Homo sapiens: one gene and its partners. The protein of the gene in region 2 interacts with the protein of the main gene of each other region in a pairwise test. Each region holds a gene or a part of one and is shown on either strand. Other genes may lie near its edges.

Evidence for each region.
Region 1: the proteins of PCYT1B (region 2) and PAXIP1 interact in a two-hybrid assay, tested with the Homo sapiens proteins (one study listed by BioGRID).
Region 3: the proteins of PCYT1B (region 2) and VKORC1L1 interact in binary tests that used the Homo sapiens proteins (3 or more experiments, as listed by UniProt).

Annotation. Positions count from the first base shown.
Region 1 is NC_000007.14:154,972,111-154,979,219, forward strand, and holds part of PAXIP1 (PAX-interacting protein 1), read right to left. Parts: intron 4,222-7,109; coding exon 3,586-4,221; intron 2,796-3,585; exon of another isoform or gene 1-2,795.
Region 2 is NC_000023.11:24,644,259-24,652,252, forward strand, and holds the start of PCYT1B (choline-phosphate cytidylyltransferase B), read right to left. Parts: upstream 3,090-7,994; 5' UTR 2,848-3,089; coding exon 2,731-2,847; intron 1-2,730.
Region 3 is NC_000007.14:65,946,020-65,953,128, reverse strand, and holds part of VKORC1L1 (vitamin K epoxide reductase complex subunit 1-like protein 1), read right to left. Parts: intron 4,459-7,109; coding exon 4,349-4,458; intron 1-4,348. UniProt on the Homo sapiens protein: Involved in vitamin K metabolism. Can reduce inactive vitamin K 2,3-epoxide to active vitamin K, and may contribute to vitamin K-mediated protection against oxidative stress.

The DNA of each region.
Region 1 (7,109 bases), on a different chromosome or scaffold from region 2:
TTTCAAAGTAAATTATTTTGTCTCTATATCCAAATACAAACTTAAGGAACTTTATATTTAAACCAACATCCATTGTATTTGAAAAACATAATAAGGCCAGGCACGGTGGCTCACACCTATAATCCCAGCACTTTGGGAGGCCGAGGTAGGCAGATCACCTGAAGTCAGGAGTTCGAGACCAGCCTGGCCAACATGGCAAAAACCCGTCTCTAATAAAAATGAACAAACATTAGCCGGGCGTGGTAATGGGCACCTGTAATCCCAGCTACTCAGGAGGCTGAGGCAAGAGAATCGCCTAAACCAGGGAGGTGCAGTTTGCAGTGAGCAGAAATCCCACCACTGCACTCCAGCCTGGGCAACAGAGTGAGACTCTGTCTCAAAAAACAACCAAAACATATATATTAGAAATAAGTAGTAACTAACCAGCAGTAACTGACCAACACTTTTTGACACCACAGATAAATGAAAAGCAAAGAAAATTTCCTATTTCAAATGGATGACTTCTGTCCATAATTTCTCACCTAAAGAAAGTGAGAAAGTAGCCATTTCTCGAAGTGCCAGAGGCTTAATCCATGATTTCTCACACCAACCCTATGAGAGAGATCTTTACGGCCCATATCTCGCATATCCCACTGCTGACAGGACAGGTCCACTGCGTGGCCGCAGTCTTCCTGCCAGGACTGGGTCACCTTCTCAATTCCTCCACCTCAGCAGTATCATCACTCTTCTCATGACTGAGGTCAAAAATGCTAGAATCCTCTTTGCCTCTAGCCTGTCATTCTTTATGGCCTTTACTTTCTACCTGTCATGACATCCTCTGGCTCTCAGGACGACTGTGTGATCGTCACTTTGCTGCTCTGTGGCTGAGGCTGTGCCCTGTGGCTTTATCCCGCCCACCTGCCTGGACGCGGATGTGCAGGGACCAGGGCCGGCACCCTCAGCATTGGGCGGTGCTGGAGCTGGCTCCTTCTGTGCATCTACCTTTTCCCTAAACTCGGCTGACCCCAGCGCTCTCATGGGCACCCACCTGGACAATCCCTGGCCTTGCAGCTCTTGGACCTCCTCATCTTGGTGGCCTTCTCCCCATTTCCTCAGCCACACATTCCCAACCACCCCCAAGACCCATGGTCAGTGGCAGGCCTGTTTTCCTCCGGGACCCAACAAGGTGACATGGAGCGGTGGGCACTGAAGCAGGCCCAAGAGCTCCTAACGGGCAGCTGCTGTTCAGTTACAAGGCACTGTCACCACCCAGGACTTGAGGAAGGCCAGCTCGGCATTTTATCAGGCATCCACCTCTCAAGCCAGAAACCCAAAGTCTTCCCTATCTATGAATCACCTATTTGAAAATCTTCTATTCTCCTCAAACCCGATGACCTTCTCTCTCTGCTCACCTTCTCCCCCACCATCTTAACTGTCTGCTGTCTAACATCTAAAGGGCATGTTTGCCTCTATCTTACTCTGGATGCCAGCCAACCGCTGTCATCATCCCAAGAACCGTGTACTACTAATACTCGCTGCTTAGGTGGAGGGGAGGGGAGACAAAGATTTTGTCTGTCCCACAGCATTTCTAAACACTACGTAAACCACTGCTATTATCATACCCAATAAAATGATCATTGTCAACATCACCTTATACCTACGCCATACTGAATTTCCCCACTTCATCAACATCAAGCCTTTCCACTGAAAGTGGATGTGGAGAATACTGGATCCGGCTTCAGGTTGTTCCTATATGCTACAGAGCCATTTTTCTGGGACTTTGAGCTGTCATTATGAAATGAAAGTGTCCAGAACAAGGTGAAGCGGCAGACGGGGTGTCACCATCAGATGGAACAGCCCAGCTGGCTCTCAATGGTGCGGCTCCTCAGAGCCTGGCCCCAGACCCTCCTCTTGCTCTGCCCCACCTACTACACATTCTCACATCCGCCTCCACAGCTTCAGTCAGCCTTGTTTTCTCTGGTTCCACCACGTAGCAGACAGCCCCTGCATGGATCAGATACCTCCAACCCAACACATCTGAAAAGAAACTTAGGTTCTTCAAACCTGCAGCTTTCCAGTGTTCCTTATCTCTGAAACAGCATCATCTTCCTTCACTCGCTCAAGCCAGAAAGCTGGATCCTCCCATTCATTTTTTTCTGTCTCAAACTCCAACTCTATGTCCTCTTAAGGGGCCTCTCTGCTTCACTCTTGCCCCTCAAAGATCCACTGTTTACACAGAGTGCATCTCACCCCAACTCAAAAGCCCAGTGGCTTCCTTCCAAGAAAGACCATACTCCTCACTATGGCCCTATATGGCAAGGCCCCTTTTAAATCCTTCCTAGAACTCATTCACCTTATGAAGTTCAAATTTCATTAACTTTCTTTTCTTAGAACTCAGCAAATTCATGCCATTTGGGTCTTCCTTTTGCCTGGGAACTCTGTGCCCTCAGTTCTTCACATGGCCTCTCCTTGTCATTCAACCCTGATCTAAGTCACCTCCTGCCCGAGGTCCTTCTTGACCATCTCGTCTAAAATAGCCTCCTTCCCTTCACCTGCTATTACGGGACCCTGATTATTTTCTTTGAAACACCTTTCACCATCAACAGTCCTTTTGTTCATATTTCTCCACTTACTGTATGTCTTCTCTACCTAAATTAGTTTTCTTAGTCACAATTTTATCTCCAGTGCCCAGAAAAATGCAGAGTGGCCAATATACCACCTCAACTACCTTCTTTCTGTCTTAAATAGAAATATATGTACTTAAAACTTTTAAGGCCATGCGTGGTGGCTCACACCTGTAATCCCAGCATTCTGGGAGGCCGAGGTGGGTGGATCACTAGAGATCAAGAGTTCAAAACCAGGCTGGCCAACATGGTGAAACTCTGTCTCTACTAAAAATACAAAAAAAAAAAAAAAAATTAGCCAGGCATGGTGGCACATGCCTGTGATTCCAGCTACTCGGGAGGCTGAGGCAGGAGAATCATTTGAACCCGGGAGGTGGAGGTTGCAGTGCGCAGAGATCATGCAACTGCACTCCAGCCTGGGCGACAGAGTGAGACTCCATCTCAAAAAAAAAAAAAAAAACAAAAACAAAACAAAAAACAACCAGCAACAAAACTTAAGATCCACTCTGTATCAATAAGCTCCATGCTATATAAACTGTAACCTGAAATCAAGCCTTCCTCAACAAATGCATGAATTTGTGTTATTTATTTACTACCATGAAGTTCATTATAAGCAAATCAGGTACAGCTGGTAAACTTCATTATTCTCTTTGCTGCCATTGCTAATTTTAAACTAAGTAAGAGTGGAAACCCTTCAACGGATAGTACTCCATCACTGACATCCTGGTTCTACTCAGCTGCTTTAAATCTTCAACTTAAAATACGCTGTTACCCTTTTTCAATGACCCTGAAATATACATATATACACATACACACACACACACACACACACACACACACACAAGTAAACAGGTTCTCACACAAATACTGCTTGTAAGTTATTTGGTCTGAAAAAGCAAAACCAATAAACTACATTGAAATAGACTGTGAAATCCAATTCTAAGATCCAATACTGACATTTTTTTCGGAAAGAGTGACTTACATGTGCTACATTTGATGGCCGGTTCATCTGCTGAATGTCAGCATTATTAGTAATATTCCTCAGTGTCCGTACAGCTGGACTCCAGGTAGCTATCATTTCTGATCTTTCAGAACTTTGGAGGTTTTGTCCAGCAGCCATTAAATTACCCCGGACCTCAGGGGGCAAAATGTTACCTGGGACGGGTGGGACATTGGCACACAAGTTAATCAACCCAGGCTCCTTTCCCTGAGGCAGCCTGCGTTTTGCTGCAGCTAACTGTGGGACTTCGGCCGGGGTCCAGTTTAAATTTCTCTCCTGTTTTTCCGGTGATGAATCTGAAGAATCATCAAACATTAATTCCCCTTTAGATTTTTCAGTGTTGGATTTAGGTGAAAACTGCTGGTCACCTGAAGGAGACCCTTCTTGAGAGCTGGCAGGGCTTGACTTCTCATCTGTACTACCCTCATTCTGAGAATCTTGTTCCTCATTTTCTACTTCCTCCTCCTCTTCCTCTTCCTCTTCTTCCTCTTCATAAATAATCAGACGAGGATGATAAAATGCTTCGTCCTTTTTGGTTTTCTCTGATACGCAATCCAGAACCCAGTCAGGAGTCACAATTTTAATACTTGCTCGCTTTAAAGCACATTCGTATTTCTCCTACGAGGAAAGCAGAAACACACACAAAACAAAGCTGTAAATTTTATCACATTTCCTACAATTACGCATTTTAGAAAAAACTCAGTCAAGGAATGCAGTTGAAATGTTGAGCAACTATTATTACAATTTTATACAGAAGCAACGTTTGATCTTTTAGACAGAGGACATGAGGCAAAAGTGAAAAGGAACCATACAGCAGTGATCATAGGAAGGTCTCACACCTGTAGCAGGAGTCTTAAAAGACTTGGCTGAAAATTAACTTTTTAAAATGATATTTTAAGTACAAAAGTAGAGCTAGTAATCCTATGGAAAATTATGAAATGAATAATTGCTACCTAAGTTTTTACTGATTGATAATATTTAGAAGCTTGGTTTTCCATGACAGTTAGTAAAGTAACAGCGTGGCAGAGTGCCGCCAATGCATCACGTACACTCATGGAGCATGGCTGACTTGGCTGACTTGCATAGGACAGCTCTATTCAAGATCCAGTATTTATGGAGCTCATGCTATATGCCAAGCAGCACTAAGGGATGGAGACACAAAGGATGCAACAAGTCTCTGACCTAACAAGGCTCACAATTTGGTTCTAAAGAGATATTAAATACGGAATGCAAATACAATATAAAACCACTGCTGAATGATGCAGTAACAGACTGGAAGGGAATCTCATCAACATAAGCTGGAGGGCAGGAGGAAAGCCCCGTTGAAAGGTGAGCTTTGGCTGGGGCACAAATGATGACAATTTGCACAGTTAGAATGAAAGCAGAAAATACAGCCCACTGGAAAAGATGTGTCCGGAGTAGTATGTTCGGCAAGCTAACAGAGACCTCTCCTGTGGTAAAGGGTGTAGAATGTGGAAGGCACAGGGGAGGGAATAACAAAGAAAGAGGAAATAAATAAAAAATGTTAAATAAGAGTAATATGACAATAAAGTAACCTTAAAATAAATGAGTTGTAAATTTGGCTGTGCTCCTAAAAGCTTAACACATAACAGCAATTCTCTAGCAAACACATAATCAGGGCCCTAAACTAAACTCCGTGTCCTGTTGCAGAGCCCCAAGGTGGCATTTGCAATTTCTGGGTGGAATAAGAGTCACACGCAATAGGGATGCGGGGCAGCAGCACAGAGAGGACAGCTGTTGGTCATTCGGTCCTGGCAGCGAACGCCAGGCATTGCCCATCTGGGAGATCCTTGCAAATAGTGAGCTCTGCACACAGCTCAGTGACTTAACTTGTGTTTGTGAGTTTGTTCTTTCTCAAACCTTTTTAAAATATAAGAAAAACCTAGTCATGGGAGACACCCATGAATAAGAAGCTAAGCAAAGGAAAATGAATGTAATCATAATCACACTGACTAGAAAGGACCACGATTAACATTTTTAGGGTATAGTTTAAATTTATTTTTGTTATAAATATATATGTACATATATTAAAAGGGCAAAGGGAAAAAACATATAGTCATAGTGAACAAATACTTTATAATGTTCCTTTTTCACTTAATATATTGTGAACAACCTCTTCCTATGAAAACATGTATACTTTTATGCTTTTGTTTTTAACTTTTTAATGTACATTTTCGAACACAGACCAAACTTTTTAATGTACATTTTCGAACGCAGACCAAACTTTTTAATGTACATTTTCGAACGCAGACCAAATTAGAGACTAGTGGAATAAATCCCTTGTATCTGTCACCCAGCTTTAATAACTGGCAATCTTTTACAAATCTTGCTTCTCCTGAACTTTGTTTACGGATCTCAAATTGATAAAGACTTTCTAAACCACCATAATTATCATAGCAGCACAATGAACTATGATTCACCTCATCCTCAGGCCCTATTCAGATCTCCCCAGTAGTCTCAAAGGCTTTTACAGTTTCCTCTTCGGTTGCACAGCTGTGTACCTTAGTTCATCCCCCAGTGTTAGCCACGTGGTTGTTTCCAGTGTTTCACTACTATGAAAAACTGCAGTTATATTTTATGACAAATTCCTAGGTTTTGGTGTTGAGGTTTGAAAAGGAATAGATTTAAGGCTTCATATCTCTAACTACACTTCCCTTCCCAAAAAGGCTATTCCAATTACACTTCCAACAGCTATGTAAGAGTACATCAATTTACCTATACCCTCGACAATAAAATGTCTTATTCTTTACCCTAAAAAATCATGCTGTTCTTAAATATTTAAAAGCATAAAATGTTATATAGCTCTCCCCAGATGATAAATTTCTACTAGAGATTTTCAATTTCTGGACTACCCATTCCAGAAAAACCCAAGTTATTTTAGGAAAATATGAAGTCCAGGTACACAGCAGAATATTTATGAACCAATTAATACAAAAATATCATCTGCTTGAATAACATATGACTATATGTAATATGGTTTACATATGATTTTTCCAAGTTAAAAAGATATCTGTTGAAATAGTAAAATATGAAAAAAAGTTATTTTTAATTGTTTTAACAAATACCAAAAAACAAAACAAAACTACTGCCATGAAGAGGAGTCACTGAAAATTTTGGATATGAAAAAGATAATTTCACACTTAAAAGGCTGGGATCCAGTAGGCTCTTGAGTTCCTAGTTTGTATAGAATGCTGGCATTTCACATTTCAGAAATAACTTGACTATTTCCTGTGGAAATCTAAGTAAAACACTTAGGTAAACAGCCTTACTATATTTCACTCAAGTTTTCTCTCGCTTTTCACAAGATAGGTAGTTTTTAATCACTGAAAGACAGTAACTGTTTAAACAAAGATGATTTAAGAGGAAAGCAATGTTTAGATGCCTTTGCCTGACCCAATTTATCAGCTAAATTATTCTAAATTTTGTATCCTCAAAACTTCTAACTCACTAAGGGCTAAGGACCTCAAGGGTCAACCATGTCCCCT
Region 2 (7,994 bases):
AGAAGGCAATTTGAAAATTTTAGTAGTGTTTTATAAATTGGTTGCAAGCCCCTGTTTAAACAGAGTCAAATTTCAGTAGCCCATGACAATGATGAACAACGTGGAAAATTTTGTATCATAAGTAAATCAAAGCAGGTGCTTCAACAGTTCAACTTATGTACATCTGTATCATACCTATGCATGTGCATGATACACACACACACACACACACACACACACACACACACACACGAAACCAGAACTGCCAAAAAGATGGGAAGGGAATGTATCTCACTTATGAGTATGTTATAGAAGAAAGATCTTCCACTTTTCCGGTGTAGAGCTCTGGGTTCAAATCCCAGCTCTGCCCCCTTCAAAGCAGTGTGACCCTTGGGCAAGTCACTTACCCTCTCTGAACCTCAGTTTCCTTATTTCTACAATGGGTGGGAGGTGAGGGTGTAGAGCACATTGCCAGCTTTGCGTGGTTCTTGTGAGTTACCACCTGGAATAAGCTGTCACGAGTGAAAGTGGAAAGTAACTTGGCCAGGTGCAGTGGGTCACACCTGTAATCCCAATACTTTGGAGGCCAAGGTGGGCGGATCACCTGAGGGCAGGAGTTCGAGACCAGCCTGGCCAACATGGCAAAACCCCGTCTCTACCAAAAATACAAAAAAATATTAGCCAGGCATGGTGCTGCCCACCTGTAATCCCAGCTACTCAGGAGGCTGAGGCAGGAGAATCGCTTGAACCTGGGAGGTGGAGGTTGTGGTGAGCCAAGATCAGGCCACTGCACTCTAGCCTGGAGGACATAGTGAGACTCCATCTTAAAAAAACAAGAAAGTAACTTGAACTTTCTTCTTTCCCTTAATTTTCTCTGCCCATCTCCCTCAGGCAGAAGCAATCAAGAAGCAGAATAGCTAAGAGGTAAAAATGGAAGGAAAAATAGTAGGCAAAAGAGACTGAAATGATGCACAAACTGGAGCTGGATGCCGCCTTTCTCTCCTCTGCCCTTTACCTCTGTCAGGAAGGTATGTGATGCAAATTTGAAGATTGTGGTTACTTTAAAAAATATATTTTTGGGTAAGCATGGGCACAAATATATATACATATGTGTGTATATATGTATATATGTGTGTATATACATATATATATATACACACATATATATATTGGTCCAGTGCTGTGGCACAAGCCTGTAATCCCAGCTACTTGGGAGGCTGAGGCAGGAGGATCACTTGAGTCCAGGAGTTCAAGTTTGAGGCCAGCCTGGAAAACAGAGTGAGTCTCTCTCTCTATTTATGTGTATATATGTATATGTGCATATGATAATCTTGTAATATGCTTTTAGTGGTCATTTTCCTTTATGCTAAACCATAAGTTGTTTAGTGACTCAAAGGAATCCCTTAGTAACAAACTTATTGGGATGGTTTGTATCTCATGAGAACATAGACACTGCACTGTGTATGTCATTCAGTAAGTGGCTAAAGTGCTAGGGCACAGTTACTATTAAACTGCCCTAAGAGAAAACATTTTTAAAAATAGAAGCATAGGGGAAAAAAGCCCACAGGGCTCTAATATAACTTCCTCTGTATTTGTGCTTTTTAGGAAGTTGTTCTAAGCCTCCTTTGAACCCTTATTAACTCTTATTAAGAAATAACAGTTTTATGATGGGTTGGCCTTCTCATCTGCGAGCCCTAATTTTGCAGGTTCACAGAAAATGCTACATCACAAAATCCTTTTTTAAAAAACTCTTCCCAGGGTCAAACTCCACAGCCAATCAAAATATTCCACCTTTTAACTTGAGGGAAATCGCTAAAGGAAAGGATAGCTTTAACTAGTGTGTCTTTTGGATTGGGGGACTCAAAGAGAGGTCTCCCCAAGTTCCACAAGACTTCGGACCACAGAAAACCCACCACCCATGCGTGTTTTTGATTCCTTGAGGACACATGCTGAGGTGGTTGGGAACGAAGTTTCACATCTACCTAAAAGATCATGACCAGGGATAGAGAGACGACCAAATTTGGGAGAGCAGTTACGGTGCAGTTACGGAGGCGGAAGGACGCTCTCAGTACCCCGTTTCCACACTTTCATTCTTAAAGGCATGCAACCCCTTTCTAAATAAATGTAGCTCCCCAGGTTTCCACTACCTGAAGAGAAACCCTCACAGCACACTCTGGAAATGTTTTACAATTCGTTTTAAATGCGTATTATTTCTAACTAAATCATTGAGGGACTCCTATGTATTTATTTATTTATTTATTTTGAACATTTTCAAACGGATGGGGAAGTTTTGCTTCCATGTTTCCATTTTTTTCCCCCCAAATTGGCATTAGGCACCAAAATCAGTTGAGGAACGAAGCATTCCTTAGCTAGAATTTAAAACTTAACAAGGGACTCTTCCCGAGCTTGGTAAAGAGAATACCATTTTAAAATTGCACTGTAGGATTTTTTTACCTTCAGACAAGAACACACCTAAAAGGAAAAAGGCCCTCCCCTCCTCCCGAAGCACAAAAACACAGCATATCCCAAGCAGCCCGTTTCCTACCCAGCCAATACAATAACGCTTTGTAAACTGAGAGCAGCGCCCGGTATAGAAGCTAAGTATAAACAGCTGAGAAGGATTAGGCGGTAGCGCTCTTCTCATTTACATGAAAATCCTCTAAGCATCGTTTTCCTCGCTGGCTGCGGGCGCATAAGGAACTCTTTTATGCCATAGCCACGCATACATTTCCATCCTTTGTCTTTACTTACCAGTCGAGGCTGTGGGCATGTGTGCTCTATTTCCTCCATGGTTTCTGAGGGAGGCTCATTGGAAAGGGATTTTGGGATACCTGTTTCTGACTCAGCATCAGTGGTAACTACTGGCATGGCCAGTGAATGCTCCCTCTAGCTCTACACCCTCAGAGAGTCTCCTCCCAGGCAGAGAATGTTTTCTTTGTCACGTATTTTTCTCCCCTCTACCCTCCACCCATCCCCCCGCTTCTTCTCCCCTTCTTTCTGTCTTCCCTAGGGGAAGTAAAGAGGTTACCCCCCGCCCCTCTCTCTCTCTCTCTCTCCCAGAAGCCAAGAGGCAAGGCCTCAGTTTATCACTATAACAACCAGACGACACTGAAGCGGCTGGTGCGGGATACAGTATCTCATTTGCATAGAGCGCGCTGGTTGGCTACTGTCATCATAGTACCACTCCGCCGGGAAGCGGCCGGGCCCCATTGGCTAGCCCTCCGTACCCACGGGCCCGAACTTGCTGCTTTTGTTTCTTCTGTTTAATTCAGTTGCAAAGGTCTCCGTCCTCTCTGGGCACGGGACCCGGGCTGCGCCACCCAGATAACATAAAACCGCTTCCTGAGGGGCCTAGGACGCCTTGAGAAACAACATAGCAGACCTCCACTAATAAAGGACCATGTCCCTGGGATGAGCTAGTGCATGATGTGCTGTAGTCAGGATATTTGCCAAATAGGAGTCACCCTGAAGACAAAGCCACTTTTGAGCCCAAATTCATTGTGCTAATTGCCAGTGGAGGGCCCCTCCGGGCATTCACTATGGGCACCTGAGTGTTCGACCCCTGGACTTCATGCAACGTGAACCCTGGCAGATCCCCTCGTGGCCTGGTGTAGCCCTGGAGCCCTCCCCTGGGGCTGCCCTAGGGGGAACTTTGAAGGAGGTAGATTGTCTTTAACAGCCTGCCTCCTACTCCTGGCTGCCCTTTCGCAGTTGCTTCCTCTGTCAGCCACTCTTCCCCTTCCCCAGCTATTCAAAGTTTCCTCAAGAAGTCTTGCTGTTGTGTGCCTTTCAATACACTGTTCCATGCACTGCTCTATTTTCTCTTGGTTCCTACTTTACCAGTCGTGGGTCCCATTTCCGAAGTACCCTGCTCTCAGCCAAATGCTCATGGCAATCAGAGATGGAATGTTAACGATCAGGTGCTTTAATGTCTACATTATCTAGGGACATTCACATTTTAAGAGGAGCATTCTGAAGACACACATCCAAAGAACTTACCAAGGTATTCATTGTGAATTGTCACTTTTAATATTAATAAAAAATCATGATGATCCCTGGCATTTATTAAGCACAAGCACGGTGCTAAGTACTTTACCTAGTTCTTGTTTAATCTTTGTGAGAACCCAAAGAGGTAGATCCTATTGTTATCCTCATTTTACAGGTATTCACATTCACAAAATTCTAAAATAATGCAGCTGGGATTTGAAGGAATTTTTTTTTTTTTTTTTTTTTTTTTTGCGAAGGGCGAGGTGGTGGGGGCGGGCGCGTAGGGACCAGGGATGCAGCAGGTGTAGTAAGAAAAGGATCTAGGCAGGAGTCCTCTTAGGACAAGTCCCTGGGCTTCTACATCTTTCATTTTTATCTACAGTAGTGGTTTTCATTCAAGTGTGGTCTGGGACCAGCAGCACCAACATCAGCATCACCAGGGAACTTGTTAGAAATGCGAATTATTGGCCCCCTGCCAGACCCCGGACCTGATTCAGTAAGTCTGGGGTGGGGTCAGAATTTGCTTTTCTAGAGAGTTTCTGGGTGTTGTTAATGCTGCAGGTCTGGGAACTATACTTTGAGAATCAGTAGCCCAAAGGATGGGATAAAAATACCGGGCTTGCCTCCATCACAGAAAGGAGATCAAATGAGATATCATGTCATTGCACTTTTTGAATTAGAACGTGCTATGCTAATATAAGGGGACATTATTTTTATTACTCCTCAATAAGCAAAGAGGGCTAGTCCTAAAAGAAGAAGAAAATGGATTCTGTAGCAGAGAATTACAGTTTGACAGTTTTAGATGCTGGCCCTTTAAGTCAGAATAACATCACTTAAGAGTATTATGACCTATACAGGACAGAACTCCAGTGTTGTGAGAATTCCAGTGATGCTTCCTACCCTATTTGCCCTCCTGGAAGCACAAAACACTTCCAGCAGCAGGTTTAACTCTACCAGCTCATCACCTGGAAGAGCCAAGCCCTGTGTTACATTTAGGAGCCCTTTTCCTACGTGTACTGGGTGACGTGCAAATGACATGGTTATTCTAATCTCAATATATGTATTTTTGCCTTAGAGCAGTGGTTCTCAAAGTGTACTTCTCCAAGAAGTGCAGCAGCAGCCCTGGTCACTTGTCAGAAATTCTGGATCCCCACCCCAGACCTACTGAATCAGAAATTCTGGCTTCCCACTCCAGACCTACTGAATCAAAACCTCCTGGTTTGGGAGGCATTCTGACCCACGCTAAAGTTTACAAACCACTACCTTAGAGTCACTGTTCACATTGGAAAGCACCTAAACCCCACTGTATTCTTGGCCACTGAGCCACCCCTTGGTTCCTAATTGGTCACCTAATTCTCTCTCCAGAATGAGAGGTTCACCTGTTCACCTGCTCATTTTAAAGAGTTCTGATGTCTAGCTGAGTCCTTGTGAACTCTTGTCCAAGAGCCTAGGCCATTCCTTTAGACTCCCAATATCTTCTGTCTCCCTTCCTCACCTTCTTCTCCTCCTAATCCTCCCCTGTCCCATTGAACCAAGATACTGCCTTTGCCTAGGATATCTTCATTGTATTACCCACATCAAATCCTTAGCTTTCAGTGCTACTTTGTGCTAAGTCCGTCACACCTGACACTTACTCATCCCAAGTCCTTGAACTTTGAAATTTAGACTTCTGTCTAACTGCCCTGAGGGTCAGCTCTATAACTAATTCCATTCCCACTAATTCTGCTCCAGCCTAGTCCTGGCTTCTTCCTGCTCCTCTCCCCACAGTCCTGTGATTGAATCTCAGCATGTCTTGCAGTCTTAATGGCAGAAATAGGCTCTTTCAGGCACCACTCTGAGAGGAGTCCTTAACAGATCCACCCACTTTGGAGACCAGTCCTGGCAGCTGCTACAACCTGACTCAGAAACTTCTTGATAATACTTGAGTGAGTTATTTTAACTTGGGGGCATTGTAATGCTATCAAGACAATTAGCTAAGAATGATCAGTTAATTCCACACTACAGAGCTAAATATTCCATAAGGGTTATGAAGGGGATGACTATGAAGGGATAGCAGGAGAGAGTTTATTGGGGTAATGGAATTATTATGTAGCTTTTTTTTTTTTTTTTTTTTTCAGACAGGATCTTACTCTGTTGCCAGGCTGGAATGCAGTGGTGCAATCTCAGCTCACTGCAACCTCTGTCTCCCAGGCTCAAGCGATCCTCCCACCTGAGCCTCCCAAGTATCTGGGACCACAGGTGTATGCCACCACTCCTGTCTAATCTTTCTATATTTTTGGTAGAGACAGGGTTTCACTGTGTTGCCCAGGCTGGTCTGGAACTTCTGGCCTCAAGTGATTCACCTTCCTCGGCCTCCCAAAGTGCTAGGATTATAGGCGTGAGCCACTGTGGCCGTCCAAGAATCATTATGTATCTTGATTATGGTAATGATTTCAAAAAATCCATGCATGTGTTAACTTCATTAGAAATTCCATAGAGGATATTTGTCAGTATATGCTAACAGCCTTTAGAATATTCATACCCTTTGACCTAGGGATTCCACTTGGTAATTTATCCCAAAAGAAATAGAGAAGCACACAAATAATTATGTACAAAGATGCTTAATGCAGAATTATTTATAAAAGGCAAAAAAGATACAACTTACAGCAATAGTAGGAATAGTTCAAATAAAAATAAGTCCATATAATATAGTATTGTACACTCACTAAGAGTCATGTTTTTGAAGAAATTCTAATGTTATGGGCACGTGTTAGCATTATAGTGTTAGAAAAGCAGGCTGCAAAATGTGATTCCAAAAACATGAGCCCAATTATGTCATATGTACATGCACAGAAAAAAGCATTGGAAGGAAATATATCAAGATGCTAAAAGTGAAATCTTTAAACTGTGGGGTTATGGAAGATTTTTGTTTTACTTTAAAACAAATTTTTCTGCCTTTAACAAATATTCAAGGCTGGGCGCGGTGGCTCACGCCTGTAATCCCAGCACTTTGGGAGGCTGAGGTGGGTGGATCATGAGGTCAAGAGATCGAGACCATCCTGGCCAAACAGTGAAACCCCGTCTATTTTAAAAATATAAAAATTAGCTGGGCGTGTTGGCAGGAATCTGTAGTCCCAGCTACTCTGGAGGCTGAGGCAGGAGAATCGCTTGAACCTCGGAGGCGGAGGTTGCAGTGAGCCGAGATCACGCCATTGCACTCCAGCCTGGGCAACAGAGCGAGATGCCATCTCAAAAAAAAAAAAAAAAAAATATATATATATATATATATATATATATATATATATATATATTCAAAAATGAGCATATATTATTCTTTTTTTTTTTGAGACAGGGTCTCACTCTGTTGCCCAGACTGGAGTGCAGTCACGTGATCACAGCAGCCTCGACCTCCCAGACTCAGGTGATCCTCCCACCTCAGCCTTCCAGGTAGCTGGGACTACAGGACACGCAACCACGCCTGGCTAATTTTTTGTAGAGATGGTGTTTCACCATGTTGCCCAGGCTGGTCTTGAACTCCTGAGCTCAAGCGATCTGCCTGCCTCGGCCTCCCAAATTGCTGAGATTACAAGCATGAGGCACCGCACCAACCCTATATTAGTCTTATAATTAGAAAAAAACAATGAACATTACTGTCCTCCCCAAAGTCATCAAGAGCTGGGTATTAGGGTTGGGGTGAGACAGGCATGGTTAGCTCATGAGCAAATAGAAAGATGCACAGACCTCAGTGAGAGGAAACAAAAAAGCTGAAACCGAGGAACAAAGCTGGAGCAAAGTCCTAAAGTCCTATCTCCAGTTAGCAGAGGCAGAGGAAACATGTTGGAGGTAGGCTGTTCAGAAAAGTCCCAGAGAATGTTTAGGAACAGGGCTTCTGAGTCCCATGACCTCTACAAGAAGAGCATGCCTTCTGTGAGAACTTGTCAGATCAGTGCTGTCCCTAACAAGGACTATCATGATTATTTCTACTGTTTATTGAGTACCTCTTATGTCTTTAGCACTATGGTATTAGGTTGGTGCAAAAGTAATTGCAG
Region 3 (7,109 bases), on a different chromosome or scaffold from region 2:
AATCCAGGCTCTCAATACAAAAAGGCACCTGAAGCCACGCACAGTGGCTCATGCCTGTAATGCTAGGACTTTGGGAGGCTAAGGCAGGCAGATCATTTGAGGTCAGGAATTTGAGACCAGCCTGGCCAACATGGTGAAAGCCCCTCTCTACTAAAAAGTACAAGAGAAAAAAAAAATTAGCTGGGCATGGTATTGCACGCTTGCAACCCCAGCTACAAGGGAGGCTGAGGCACGAGAATTACTTGAACCCAGGAGGCGGAGGTTGCAGTGAGATAAGATTGCACCAGTGGACTCCAGCCTGGGCGACAGAGTCTTAACTCTGTCTCAAAAAAAAAAAAAAAAAAAAAAAAGGAAAAAAAAAGGCACCTGAATTCTGGACTCTATCTTCACATGTATTGTTTTTAATTTCTTATAGGCAACAGTATAGAGAATATGTGCATTTATTTTCAAGGACAGAGAAGGCAGAGCATGTTAAACTACCCTCCTACCCAATGACTCATGGATAAGGATAACAGAAACAGGAACAAAATAACAGGTGGGAGCAGGTATAAAGAAGTCAGTTAAAGAGCTGAAATCCTGGGCCCTGTTGGCAAAAAAAAAAATGCAACAAGAAGACGCCTGTGGGCCGGCTGCCGCACAGCCACGGGCCTAGATGCTTTCATAGGGCACTTCAAGACTAAGGTGCTGCTGAATTACTTGTTGCAGGGACTAGCAAATCTGGCCAGCTACCTGCTTTTGTAAATAAAGTTTTATTGGCACCCAGCCATGCTCATTCATTTATGTAATGTCATTCATTACGTAATGTCTGTGACTGCTTTCATACTAGAAGAGTTGAGTGGCTGCGGCAACTGGCAAAGCCTATTTTCTGCCAGGCCCTTTACTGAAAAAGTTTGCTGACTTCACCTATGCTAAACAACTAACATTTCGAAATTAATGTGGTCACAATTTTACCTAAGAAAGTTAACTTCAGAATGATACGGGCAACTTATTTCTTCCTCTATGCCTTTCTTTTCTCAACTGTAAAATTGGGATAACAATCATGCCTACTTCTTAAGACTGCTGGGCAATTAAATGAGCTGAGATAATGCAGGATTAAAGCACTTAGAATAGTGTATAAATACCAGATATCCATTAAATGCTACTGTAATGCAGCTAGGTACGTTTGGCTCAGGGTCAAATTCCCAGTGGAATTTAAAATGTGCTGTAACTCTAAATAAATGATGGTACAATTATGCAATGGATTATTCTGCAGCTGTAGAAAAGAATGAAGACATTTAATATACTGATATGGAAAAATCACCATGATATATTCATCAGGCAAAAAAAGAAAATGCAAGCTGCAGAACAGTGGGTATAGCATCTGCCTTTTATATTTTAAAAAGGAGGAAAATTAAGATTGTGTATTTGTACTTTCTCGTATATGCATAAAGAGACAATAACAAGCTACCAGTCGGGGCTGAGGAGCACTGGAAACCAGGCATAAAGGGAAGGGGTGGGATAGATTTTTCTTTGTGTAACATTTTATATATGTATATATATATATATTTTTTTTTTCCTGAAGGAGTCTCGCTCTGTCACCGAGGCTGGAGTGCAATGGTGCGACATTAGCTCACTGCAACCTCTGTCTCCCAGGTTCAAACAATTCTCCTGCCTCAGCCTCCCAAGTAGCTGGGATTACAGGTGTGCGGCACCACACCTGGCTAATTTTTGTATTTTTAGTAGAGATGGGGTTTCACCATGTTGGCCAGGCTGGTCTTGAACTCCTGACCTCGTGATCCACCCATCTTGGCCTCCCAAAATGCTGGAATTATTGGCATGAGCCACTGTGCCCGGTCCTTTTTAAAAACTTTTGAACCACGTGAATGGATTACCTATGAAAAAATTAAATTAAAAATGCTGTGTCTCAAACAGGTTAGAAGGGAGTACAGATGCTGTGCTCTGGAAATTGCTAGGTTAGTTCAAATGTGCCTCCCATGAAGACACCAACATTAAAAGGCACGTGAAGCATCTAAATGCGAGTCAAAAAATGCGAATGAAAAAACACATGTGATAAATATGATTTAAAATATGTATATACCATGGCATTAAATTAATGGTAAAACAAAAATTTGGCTGTCACACCTCTATCTTCAAGAGTTAATCTAGTCAAAGGCTGTTCTTAGGTTCTTTGCCTTTAAAGGAAAACATCTTGCATCTGGGCTTATACTTCATATTCTTCTCTAGAAATCCAGCAAAATGGAAACATGCAGAATACCTAGTGAAATTTCTCCCTCCTCCCCAACCACCCGACCCTTTTCTATGCATTTACATGCATGTATACAAACACGTTTATCCTATACCTATTATACCAAAATTTGCTTTTTTCACTAAATAGTGTCTTTATCTTTCTAGGATATAAACATAGATCTCCTTTTTCCTTTAATGGCTACATAGTATTTCATAGTATTTTCTAATTTATTCAACCATTATCTATTTGTAACCTACCTCCATTTTTTTTTTGCTATTTTACACTGTACTGCTATGAATATCCTTGTGCACACATCTTTCTACTTCTGCAAGATAAATACATAGATATGGAACTGGGCAAACTCGACAGAACTACTGAGGATGATTTAGATTTATAATTTGCCTCATAACAAATCAATTTCAGATAGAAGAGTTACATGTATTTTTAATGAACCAAATCAGAAGAGCTGACAGGTAATGGAATATTAACAATTAAAATACAAAAGCATTGGTATGCAACAAGATCTACAAAAAAGAAGAAAAATAAAATGCAAAGGCATCAACAGATGGATTTAACTCTAAAAGTATAAAAACTTAATACAATACAAATTCATAACACTAACAAAAAAGGATAAAGAATGCATAAAATGTTTGTAACACATATAAAAATGTACTAGTATCGGGATCCAATAACTAAATGCTAAATGGGCAATAAAAGGAAATTAAAAAGAGTAAAAATTAAAGTAATAGGTACTAATGTGTAACTATTAGCAATTTTTCCAGGTGAAGATTATCGTTACAATTAAAAAAAAAAGAAATTTTACAAAGCATGTCTTAAAAATAAAGACCGCTGGAGCTTCAGGGAAACCAAAGAACTGAGGGAAAAGCAAATTGGTAACACTGATTAAAATTGAAAATATCTGTGTTTTTTGATACTATGCTTGGAAATTTATTTTGTGGAGATAATTCAAAGGAAGGAAGGAGCAGGAGGTCTTTAAACAAAGTTGATCACTGCAGCATTATTTGGAAGTAAAAGGAGTGAAACCTAGATGTTAACAATAACACTTAGGATAAACGACACTATGTTGAAACACAGTTCACATTAAATTATTAGTTTTTGAGACAGCGTCTTGCTCTGACCCCCAGGCTGGAGTGCAGTGGTGTGATCTCGGCTCCCTGCAACCTCCATCTCTTGGACTCAAGTGATTCTCTCACCTCAGCCTTTCAAGTAGCTGGGACTACAGGTGTGTGCCACCACACCTGGCTAATTTTTGTATTTTCTACAGAGACAGAGTCTCACCATGTTGCTCCTGGGCTCAAGTAATCTGCCCTTCTCGGCCTCCCAAAGTCCTAGGATTACAGGTGTGAGCCACTGCACCTGGCCCCAAGTTATTATTATTATTATTATTTATTTCTTTTTTGTGAGACGGAGTTTCGCTCTTGTTGCCCAGGCTGGAGTGCAATGGCGCGATCTCAGCTCACTACAACCTCCGTCTCCCGGGTTCAAGTGACTCTCCAGCCTCAGCCTCATGAGTAGCTGGGATTACAGGCATGCACCACCTCGCCCAGCTAATTTTGTATTTTTAGTAGAGACAGGGTTTCTTTATGTTGGCCAGGCTGGTCTCGAACTCCCAACCTCAGATGATCTGCCTATCTTGGCCTCCCTAAGTGCTGGGATTACAGGTGTGCACCACCGCACCCAGCCCAAAAATTATTTTTAAAAGCAGAAGACTGTGGAAATAGTGGATATGTAAAGGTAATGGGATTATGAATATGGTTTCTTGTTAATGTCCCCTTAATATATGATATTTTTCAAGGCCACTGAGTCTATAAAATAAGGAAAAACGTTAACAGGGAAGATGGGAGTGATAATTTCCTGGAATGGGACTGGTTTTTCTGGACATCATGAGATACTGCTCTCCATGATTAAACAGCAATTGACATAAATTCAACAATAATATAATAAAAATCTCAGTGAATCAAGTTTTCATAACACAAAAATGTTGTACACGCTAGTGGTTCTATAAATAACACATGCTTTAACATCAAGACACTTCAGGGCAAAGACACAAAGTACTAAACGGAATATAACAAACTTATTTTTGTATTGATAAATACTTACCAAGTAATAACTGTAGTATATAAAATATAAGTCCAAAGACACTGTTTGGCTGGTTTAATACACCATCCTTTCCAAAAATGGAACCCAAAAGACCAAATCCTCGACCCCATCTGTAAAATAAGGAAAACCAGTAACCCTATATTTGAATTTCCCTATTTTAAAAAATGTATCATTATTTGAGAACGTTATCCAATTCTAAAATCAACTAAGTTGTGAAATGTCTTAAATGTCCTGTGTTGAGAGAGTGATTTGCCCCAAAGAGAGGGAGGCCAGTCACTAGATTTCTGATTAGAAATAATCATCTAAAATGAACATATCTAAAGGTGCCAGTATACCCATCTGAATCTCTCAGTTGCCAATTTCTATATATTCTCTTCTCCAGAAGGTAGGGCAAAGTATTCGTTTTCCAATGGCATTAGTATTTGCAGAAGGAGACTTCTCTATGCAGAAGGAGACAGTTGTCCACTGTCTCTTAACAGTGGACTACTGACATTTTGGGCTAGATAATTCTTTGTGCTGTGGGGTGTTCTGTGCATTACATAACTAACAGTACCCCAGAGCTCCCCCAACTAGATGCTGCCAGTACTCCTCCATCCCAGGTGTGACTACCAAAAATGCAGTCACAGCCATTGCCAAACATCCGCTGGGACACGACTGCCCCCAGTTGAAAACCATAGAATGTAAGTTGTGCTATTTATTCACTCAAAGAATATAGATTGAAAAGTTGTTTCTTCACAAATTTCACCAGGATATGCATTAAGAAATATACTGGGAATGTATTTTTTAAATGTAGGGCCGGGCCCGTGGATCACACCTATAATCCCACCACCTTGGGAGGCCGAGGCGAGCAGATCACAAGGTCAAGAGTTCGAGACCAGGCTGGCCAGCATGGTGAAACCCGTCTCTACTCAAAATACAAAAAATTAGCCGGACATGGTGGTGTGCACCTGTAATCCCAGCTAGTTGGGAGACTAAGGCAGGAGAATCACTTGAACCCTGGAAGCAGAGGTTGCAGTGGGCCGAGACTGCACCACTGCACTCCAGCCTGGGCAACAAGAGCAAAACTCCATTTCAAAAAAAAAAAATGCAGGATAATATCAGAAACTATAGGTCTTTCCTGGAATCCTATCTCAGATGTAAAAAACTGGATACATTATATGCCCTATCAGTTTTTATTTGCAATTTAACTTTAAATCTTGCATTTGACTTAACATTTTTAAAACCTGATTTTTTTTAAATTGTTAACTTATTTGATAAAACTTGATACAAATATCAAACATTCATTTTGAATAAAAAACCTTTAAAGATAATGTTAACTCTGGATTGAACGAGAGTGCTTCTTAAATACTAAAAAAAAAAAAAAAAACCAGTTATGGTGTTAAGTCAGTAGAGAATCAGTCTAAACAAAATCTAAACTTTGGTTCTGAAGACAAACTGCCCCAAAGCAAGGATAAATAAGTAATTCTTCACAGGCCACAATAGTTTAATAGCACTTGATGCCCAAGATATAGAATGAAACCCCTGTATAACGATGATGTTGGGAGAGAAAAATCACCCCGATTTTACAAACAAGTGAAAGCCATGAAGATTTTTATTGTAGAATTATGCAATCCTTTTTGTTTGTTTTGTTTTGTTTTGTTTTTTTGAGACAGGATGTTCCTCTGTTGCCCAGGCTACAGTGCAGTTGCAATCATGACTCACTGCAGCCTTGACCTCCGAGGTTCAAGTGATTCTCCTGCCTCAGCCTCCCGAAGTAGCTGAGACTACCACACCCAGCTATATATATATATTTTTTTTTTGGTATTTTTTTATAGAGTTGCAGCTTTGCCATGTGCCAAGGCTGGTCTTGAAGTACTGGACTCAAGCAATCCTCCCACCTTGGCCTCCCAAAGTGCTGGGATTACAGGCTGAGCTATGACACCCAGCCTTCAGTTATACATTTCAAAGAACATAAAATAATTTCCATTATATTCATTTATTCTTTCACTCATCTAAATACTTATTGAGCATGTACTGTGTGCACTGACGCTACGTGCCGGGGATCCAGAAGTGAACGAGCCAGACGAGGTGCTGCCCTTGTGGACCTTAAATTCTATTTAGGGAAGAGAAATAATAAACAGGTAAACAAATGCCAGATTACCTGCAGCAATGGACACACCTTGTAACAGATACACAGGAAAATTAGAAGGGGAAACTCTAGATCAGTGCTTCTGAAATTTTTAAAGCACAATCACTCTGGGGTCTGGTTAAAATGTAGCTGTTCCTTCAGTGGGTCTGTGGTGGGGCCTAAGACTCTGCATTTCCAGAGAAAACACAACACAAAATGAAATGCTTGCAGGCAACACTGACGCTTCTGGTCTGAAGCCCACACTTGGAGATCCATAGCTGTGGGCAGAGAAGGGGTGCAGCAAGCTCCTCTAGCTTGATGGTCGGGAAGGACCTTTTCCAGGAATGAAGTTTTGAATGAGATCCTGAGTGATGGTAAGCAATCGGTCTCATGAGCAATGGCAAGTCAAAGGCCTTGAGGTAGGAATGAGCTGTGGGTGTGCCAAGGAAGGCCACTGAGGCTGGGGCATGGTGATTGAGGAGAGTGACAGGAGAACTGGGAGCGAGTCCAATCATTTACATTATTTAGGGCCTTGTGTGTAGGCCATGCCGAAGAGTTTGAATTTTATTCTAATTGCTATGAAAGACGTTTAGTAGCTTTCAAACTGGAGAGTGAGATAAGCTTATTTATGATCACTCTTCGCTGCTGCATAAA